Regions from separate parts of the Homo sapiens genome. Here region 1 is linked to region 2. The links come from fine-mapping of genetic effects on gene expression. A gene starts in region 2. The other region holds a variant in brackets. All regions are shown on one strand. Distances are between the middles of the regions.

Region 1 (4,391 bases), 630 kb after region 2:
AGGCTGTAAATCACTAGCTTTTTTTTCCTCATGAAAAAAAATAGAGTTAAAAAATATTTCCTCTCTTTTCCATATTCCAGCTGAACTCCGTTTCCAAAGGCACAAAGAAGAGTGTGCTTATTCAGATTTTGAATCTTTTTGGTACCTTTTGGTTAATGACATAGCCTCCTGAAATTCTGGATGTCTTCAAAGTCAGTTTTGCTTCTTTATCCTGAAAATCAGATTTACAATGCTGAAGGCATTTCTTGGGCCCAGTGTAGCTCACGCAATCTCTGCTACCCATAAGCCTTGATGAAGATGATACAGTCCGGACTGTGAGCATGGTGCTTCATGTATATGTGCTGCCAGTAACAAGAATTTTTTTGTTTTGTTTTGTTTTGTTTTGATAAGGCATAAAAGAAACTCATTCCTTGACATCAACTGTAATTCCATCATTCCATGTCTGCGGATACAGACAATAAAAAAAATGTTGTGTAGTCAGTACTAATTACTGACATTATAAGCATTCTCAAATGCAATAAAAATGCTGGTTGTTCACGCTGGTAGTAAAAGTTGCCACAGCCTAAGTTTGTTTCCCTTTCTGACCTGCTGATATTGTATGTTAGGCATATGCCTTAGGTTTATCACCAGCTGCTTCCAATGCAGAATTAAAATCAATCTTAAAGCTTTCATGATCAGGGAAGGCTGAAGCTCTTATCCTCAGGATTTCCAAGTGAAAGTATCCACTTAGAGAATTGGGAAGTAAAAAAAAAAGAGCAAGAGATGTTATCTTTTCTCTTGAGGAAGCACACTCTTATTTTTTTCATCAAATTTTATAAAGAAAAACAAAATGTTTAATAACTAGCATTAAGAGCAAACTAAAATTTCAGAGGAAAGCAATTTCATGAATAATTCATTAAAATTTCACATCTGCAAGATTAGTCATCCAAATAAAATGCTAATGTCAAAAACATGCACCGTCTATAATATTCTCATCAAGAAATCTTTTTGCATATAATGATAAATGCTTAGATTAGAACAAATGATTTTATAAAAATATTCTATCAAAAGTATGCTAGATAATTGCATTCATTGAAGAAAACAGAACTTCAGTACCTAAATATTCCAGAAAAACCATCTTAATTTTGAGATTTTAAAAAAATAATTAGATGCATTTAGGAAATGTGCTGTTTCTTTTTAATATTACTCTATAGTATATATTCTAGGGATTAATGAATTTGAGCATCACCTTTCAATAAAAAATTAAATTGCCAATATGAAAGCAGTATTTTAAGTGGCCAAACCGTGGTAACATAAAACCATTACATATATAATTCAGAGCACATAATTCAGGGCAAAGGATGACTTGAAAATTAACCTCCCAGTCTTTATTCTGCAAAACACCCACCGATGCTGAGGATACAAGTGAACATTCTTTCCCAGCATTGTTTTGAAAAGCCCATATTAGCAAAGTTGTGTGTGTGTGTCTGTGTGTGTGTTTTTAACAAGTAGATTTTGCTATTAAGTTGCAAACTAGTGTCCTCTTTGAATTAACAATTATGCCCTATCTAGAAACCCCTTAGTCTCAATAATTAGCAAAACATTTGAACCTTTAATTCTCACCTGGCTACTGAGACTATAATCTTAGGGTTAATTCAAATTCCTGTAATTACCAGGCTTAAACCTAAATACTGCTTACAGCCTATACATTAGTAAAATTTAAAAATGTACAGATACTTCTTTTAATAAACTGGAGGACCTAAACCAAGTATGACGATATGTTAGTGAAGATTTTGCTGGTTGAGGCATAGTACATTTTAACTTATATTTCAGGAATTGTTCTCAAGCAGGAACACTCTTTTACATATTTATTTCAGGCTTGTCACTCTCATAAACGAGGCAGCAAACCCAAAATATTGGCTCTTCTTATAAATAGGCGCCTTTATATAAAGAACATAAAACTCTTAAGACTAATTTCACACCAACACAGGCAGCTTCATAATAGTAACCACCTCTCCCTCCCCACTAAAAAAGATAAAAACAAAGTATAATTAGTCTTTCTTATTAGATTTTTGTCTTTGATGATATTACGTATTTATGTGTAGGGTAGTAATCACAATTTATCCTTCATCTTCATTGTAGTTGAATCAAATAAAAGTATTCTTTATTCAAATAATGTGAAGTTGGGTGTCTCAAACCTTCATTTAATGAATTGATGAAAGGTTTAAGACAAAATTCACGTTGGAGGGAAATTAAGTTACATACAAAAACACTGGTTTTAACTGTGGGACAATATTTGGATTAGAAAACCATCTCTAGATATAACCTACTTATATTTATTTTTAAATGGTATTTTATTTTTTAAAATAACAAAACCCAATGTTGTCTTATTTCCACTTTGATTGTAAAATGACATTCAATGCTTAATACCAAAATATATATATATATACACATTTGAAATTATCAACGGTCCTTTTTTTTTGGTTTATATTGAAAATATTGTGAAGGGAAAAAGACAAGCTTCAAGTTATAATGTTAATTTGAAGGTAACCGGCCTTTCAAGAATTAATTTCAGCCAAAGCAATAATCATTATTTACCAGCGTGTGACATTTTTATCACTCATCATATTAGCAAATTTCCATTGAAAATGCTAAAATGGTTCGTCATAAGGCAGATAACTGCT[C/A]GAGCTGTAAAAATGACCAACACAAGTGCCGGTACTCAAACATTAAATTATACTGTAATTAATAAAGACAGTTAAACTGTCTACTAGCAACAGCAATTTAGGTAACCACATTTGATCGGCTATAAATTGTAACTACATTAAAATTCCAGAAATATTAGCAATATGGATTACTTGATGGAAGTCAGTGCTGATCACCAACTCTTTCTTTCTTTCTTTCTTTCTTTTTTAAACAACGGAAGCACAGGTCATGTTGACCACAAATCCGTGGGCGAAGATCAGGCCTTAGCACTTTTAATCTTGTGAAACAAGCAATTACAAATAGTTGCATCGATTTGTTAAAAAGCTTTAGGTGACATAAATTGTTTCCTGTTTAGCTTACTGCTCTGATACATAAATGTCACCAAGCCCAGTATTAATTAGGGCCATAGAACAGCAGAGGGTGGCCGATATGGCATCCAATCAAGAATTTGTCAGTCCTTTGTGAAAGTTCTGAAGGGCTGCTCTCACTGGCTCATTTCTCATTAGTGACAGAGAGAGAAAAGGAAAACTATTTTGTTATGCGAAGTCTTTAATACCAGCTTGATTTTGGGTTTTAAACTAAATCGCAGGATTTCAGACTTGCTTTCTTACTATTGGACATAAAACGCCACATTTTAAAACTATCTTCTAAACAGAATAATATTTACAAGGCATTTCAGCCCCTGAAAAGCTAACCCTTTTTCCCCTTTTCAATATAGGGTACTATACATGTTTCCTTGGGTTTATATTTCTACACTTAAAATACAATTTTAAATGGCTTTTGCACGCTATTGACTTAACATCAATCAAATGTATCATATATACTTTCTTTAGGTTGGCATGCCACTTAGAAAAATATGTGAGATTCTGGAGGAAAAAAGTCTGGAGAAAATTTATTAAACAGAAGTTTTTACTGTAATAGAATATTAATGTAAGCCAATGCTCTTTTGCCATTAAGCTGATCCTTTTTTTTTTTTTCAAACATACACATGCTTTTTATTATTTTGCACTCAAGCAAAAATTCCACATTCAAAGACTTTCCATCTAGTCGGGAATGTCTCTGGCAAGAAACATGTCAAGAAATCCTGACCTCCCGAAAGACATCAGACATCATTCACACTGCGCATTCACCCCACTGGGCAGGGAACACAAGCCCACTTTCCCCAAAACGTAACGTAGATGCTGGTCACCAGTGGGGAAGAGGGGGAACAATTACTCTTTAAATCCTTCCTCACTGCTACTCCACCAGTGCACAGATGAAAAATGTTTGATTTGCAACATAAAAGATTCATTAATTACCACTTGAATATTTAAAGCTATTTTGCAGTCTAACAGAGATAGATAAAGCAGTGAATTAAAACCTCTAATAAAATTGTAAAAATAGTTCGGTAAGTTTACCCGTGTTATGATTTAGGGAGAGATTCAAGCATTCTCGCAGAATAGATTTTAGCATTTTTCAAGCGTGTATTTGAAGGAAGGAGCTAAGTGTTTGGGGAATAATTTGTTTCACATTTTCAAATGTTTACTAATAATTTCTTTTCAAATCAAGCTTGCTACTTTAGGACTCTATGGATAGAAAAAAAAAAATCTGCCAAACAGGTCGGAGCATTATTTGTCTGACCAGAAATTTAAATTCTTTAGAAGTATTCAGCTGGCTGTGTAAGAAAACTGCACATGTACCCCCTGAATCTAAAAAACAAAAATAATTTT
Region 2 (4,382 bases):
AGTGCCTAGATCATAGTATTTAATAAATGTTAGATGTTATTATTGACAGCTTAGACTGTGAGCTCCTCAAGGGCAGGAATTTTTATTTTTTCATCCCTCTGTGCCCACTCTGTGGTCTAGCACACAGTGGGTATGTCATTAATCCCTTTATGTCTTGACAAACAAGACGTCGAACCCTAGCCTCTAGGAAGCTAGGACATTCCATACAAACTAAAATGCATTTTATTGGTCTAGATTCTAGTCTAAAAGATTCAGTGAATAGTCTTATCTGGATAGCATGGAACTTTATGCAGCATGCATGCAATGTGAATTCTACCAGGCTGAAATTACCTTAGCAGCCTCCCTTTCTTTTATTCTGTAGCATCAGCGAATGGCTTTGTTATTTTTTTTTTTTAACTTGCGAAAGATACAATTTCAAAGCGATAGTCTTATGCCACCCTTGAAATTAAGATTTAAGTTCTTCTGTAAATTAATGTTTAACAATATTTGTAAAGGGGCATTACGCGAAAGAATTTAATAATAACCTTTTCAGGATATTATCTACAACTGTGCTGGTCTCAAGACCAAAGGGACAGTAAGCCTCTCCCCTCCCCGCAAGGGGAAGTACTTTGTAGGAATCCACAGGGGTGACTTTTAATATATTCTCATAAAGAATTGGCCTGGTGTACACCAGCCAGCCAGTAGCTGGAAATGCTGGTTTGGGAGTCTGGCCACTTCTGTGGTGGTGGGTCTGAAAAAATTTACTTCTGTTAACAACAACAACAACAACAACAACAAGACATAGAGGTCTTACAGCTTTCCAAGTCACGTTTTGGAAACACATACTCTGCTTCCTTCTCTATGCGTATTGATAAAAGTGAAAGAAATACTAGTGTCTTTTGTTTTATGTATGTATATTTCAAAACATTTAATTCAGGCTCTTAGTTTATTCCTTCGAATTTCTAAATTCAACCAAACTTCAAAAACCGCAAAAAGAAAAAAAAAAATCTCACCTTTTCAAAGAATTGGACAAAGCTTTTTGCACGTGACTGATCACTGGGAGAGCAGGTAATTTGTGTTAAACAACGGACTGACATGCTAGCCCCCAGGCGTTTTCCTAAGAGGAGTCGTGGCAAGAACACAGTTCCTGATGCAGCCACCTTCCCCCAAAGTGGACTCGATTGCACATTCCTGCAGTGGCTCTGACAAGGGGGCAGAAGCTCGTCCCACATTCACACTCTCCTGATTCCGAGAAACAGGGGAGAAAACCCCTCGCTGGCTGGCGGGGTTTCTGTTTCCTTGCAAACAGGGGTTTGTCCTTCTGCTGAACTTTCACCTCCCGAACTCGCCTTCTTTCATTGGACAAAGTGCAGAAAGAAAGAGGAGAGACCGAGGGAGGACGGGAGAGAGGGAGAAAGGGGGTTGAAAACACCACCTCCCACCCCGCTCTCCTTCAACTGTCACTGATGGCAAAACACTTTCACTTTTAACTGGAGGAAACTCACATTCTAGCCTGTCCTCTCCCCTCCCTTTCATATTTTTAGCTCAGAATCCAAGCAAATAGCCATCGCATTCCCATCTTCGTCCCTAGTTAACACTCTCCCTTCTCGTTTTTTCCGCTGTCTGAATGGGCCCCCCATTTCCCATCTCCTGAGGAATCTCCCCCTCCGCCCCCCTGCCCCTTATTTTCCAGGTCTTTCCTGCCAGATCCCTCTGTTGCCAGGGACTGCTCTGGCGTTCCCTTCCTCTCTCTGGTCCGCGGGGCTCTGCCTCCCTCTCCTCTTTCCAATCCTGCCTGGACGCCCCTCACTTCCCCCTCCCTGGATCCCTCCCCCCAACCCCCCCCCCCATTCTTTGGCAATTGCGATTTTTTTTTTCTGGGAGCCCGGTTGTTTACCCAGCAGGTGGATGTGACGTCAGGGACGCACAACAGCAAAAAATAACAACATCTCCCTCCGCGACGTGTTGGCCTCTCTCGCGCGCCTTATTTATTTATTTGTTCCGGGATGTCGGGGGGGAGGGGGGAGGGAGGAGGGGGGTGGGCGCCAGCGCCCCGGCGAACGGCAAAGAGGGAGCCGCTCCCGCTCGGGGGGCCGCTGGAGTGCCCAGCGGGGTGCGTGAAGCGGAGAGGGGACCCCTGCGGGAGGTAGAGGGTCGGGCCGGGGTGCGCCCCCGGGCCGGTGCTGCCCGCGCCTCTGCCGCCGCCGCCGCCGCCACCGGCGCTGGCTGGGCTCCGGGAAGCTAGTCCGGAGCGGAGGAATCTATTGTTATTTATTGTGTGGCGGTTGCACGCTGTACTCGCGGCGGCCCGGCCCTCGCCCGGGAGTGCGTGTGTGCGCGCGTGTGTGCGCGAGTGAGTGTGTGCGCGGGGTGCGCGCGCGGGCGGGAGTGGGCGCGCGCGGGGAAAGGCCCGAAAACACCTTAGTTTGCACCGAGAGACCATTTGCAGCGGGTGAGTTTGTATTTTTCCATTTCTGCTCCACTTTTTCCCAAGCCGCCTCCTGTCTTGTTTCCGCCACTTTAAACAACAACAACAACCAGCACAAAAAAAAAAAAAGAAAGAAAGAAAAAGAGAAAAAAAATGGAAAAAAAAAAACAACTACTTTCCACCTCCAGGCTCCACGTGCATCTCCCCCAGCCCTCCCCTCTCTTCCTCTCCCCCCCGGGTCGAGGCCCAGCTCTGGGATGGGTGGGGGCTGCGGGCCGGCGCGCGGGTGGAGGGAGCTCCGGCGGCGCCCGCACCCTTTGGGTTTATTTGCATAAGTCAAATGGGGGCGGGGGCGGTGGCGACTGTGAGGAGGCGAGATCGCCTGCCCGTAGGCCCCTTCACGCCTCTCTCTGCGCTCTCCACGATCGCCTAGGGGAGAGAAATCAATAAGCCCAGGCCGCCTGGCGCAACTTTCGATGTCCGGCGTTGGCGTCCGGTGGCCGCCCGGGCGCGGGGCCGGTGCGGGGTCCCGGGTCCTGGCCGCGGCGGGAGGGGGCGCGCGCCGGGCGCCTCCTAGGCCCAAAGTTTAGACTTGGAGCAAACTTTTCCCCTTCTTTCCCCGCGGGTGTGTGCCCCCTCGGTGCCCTTGAGCTGCCCCGCGGGCCCCAGCAAACTGACTGTGGTGCCTGGCCCTGGGCCCCGCACTGGGGAACTTCCCCGCTGCCACGCGCGCGTTACCCCGAGAGTCAGCGGCGAGGAAGCTCTCCCGCCACCCCCTCGGAGCCCGGAAAATTCAAACACGCACCTGCGCACCCCCAGCCAGACACGCACCCCTACGCGCGCTCGGCCTCCGCTTTCCCGAGACGAGTCCGCAACAGCCGTGGCCAGATCCACGGGTGGGTGCGGGAGCCGGATGCGCTGCGAGGAGTCGCCGCGCCCGGATCTCTCTCCCACCATCACACACATTTTCTGATTTTACCCCCCTCTGAAGCTTGGGGGACGGGGAGATTTCCCAAGCTCCGATTTGTCCTGCGTCGCGCGCGTGTCGCCTCGTCCCTCCGGCCCTGTCCTGGCGGCCGATGGCTCTCCGTCCCTCGCTTGCGCGCAGCCTTCCTCCCGAGCTCCCTGCGCTCTATTCCTGTCCCGCCGAGACGACTCCCTGGAGCCAGCGAGCCGAGGCGGCGTGCGCTTCGAGTGGGGACCACGGCGGTGGCGGCGGCGCCGGGAGCCGAGGAGTTTGCCAGTTGCCGCGGGGTCGCGGTCATTTGCTGCCTCCGCCTTCCCTCGCCCCCGCCTCCCGCCTCCCTCCTTTTCAGACAACGTCGCGCTCGGAAACTTAGATTCCTTCTTCTTTTTGGCCCTCGACGAGCCCCCCTCCCCACCTGTTGTGAGCTCCGCCTTGGTCCCGGGAGACTGGCAGTGACACACACGGGCTCTGGGGAGCTCCGCTCCCGGAAACAAAGTCGCATGCCCCCCTCCCATGTGTTTGCTTCGAAATCGCTGCCTGCAGCCCCCCATTCCCGCGCAGCTCCCGCCCCCTGTGAGAATAAGGACTAAATAAACAGTTGTAACTCCAAACCTTGCGCCCGTGATCGTATCCCCATCCCACCCCCTTCTCCCTATTCCTCCCCCCTCCTTTTTGTTGTTGCAACTTTGTGAGATCCTGGGGAAGGTGCTGAGACTTTGGCTCGGGCCGATTTCCCGGTCTCTGGATCCTTGCAGGGATTCCCTGAGCCGCATCCTCTCTTCCCTCCACGCGCACTCGCGGGTCCTCGGAGCCCGCTGCCCTCTCTGTCCTGGCCCCTCGGCCTACTCACCCGTCCCGTCCCCTTCAGTTCCCCCCAGCCTGCACGGGGAAGACTTGCTGAGGGTCGCCCCGGTTTCTTGTCGACTGCAGAACCCGAAAGTTTGTAAGAGGAAGAGAGCGCGCGGCGAGCGAGCGAGCGGGCCGGGGGCAGCGGCAGCGGCGCCGGGG

What was found. PIP is the estimated chance that this variant, and not a neighbour inherited with it, causes the effect. A credible set is the group of variants that fine-mapping cannot tell apart.
Region 1: its variant is the best candidate, but not a certain one, in a credible set for the expression of FOXP1 in whole blood (TOPMed, PIP 0.69).

What each region holds. Positions count from the first base shown.
Region 1 is chr3:70,950,868-70,955,258 of GRCh38, reverse strand. It overlaps FOXP1 (forkhead box P1), which reads left to right. Exons shown (of 21, transcript NM_001349338.3): 21 at 1-551. Among named protein-coding and RNA genes, the nearest start is that of FOXP1-AS1, 340 kb to the left of the region's middle. The variant C/A (reference allele first, on the strand shown) is at 2,664.
Region 2 is chr3:71,581,620-71,586,001 of GRCh38, reverse strand. It overlaps FOXP1 (forkhead box P1), which reads left to right and starts at 2,274. Exons shown (of 21, transcript NM_001349338.3): 1 at 2,274-2,431; 2 at 4,305-4,382. It overlaps FOXP1-DT (FOXP1 divergent transcript), which reads right to left and starts at 1,059. Exons shown (of 1, transcript NR_182289.1): 1 at 1-1,059. RefSeq lists an enhancer at 1,790-2,084 and a silencer at 2,162-2,401.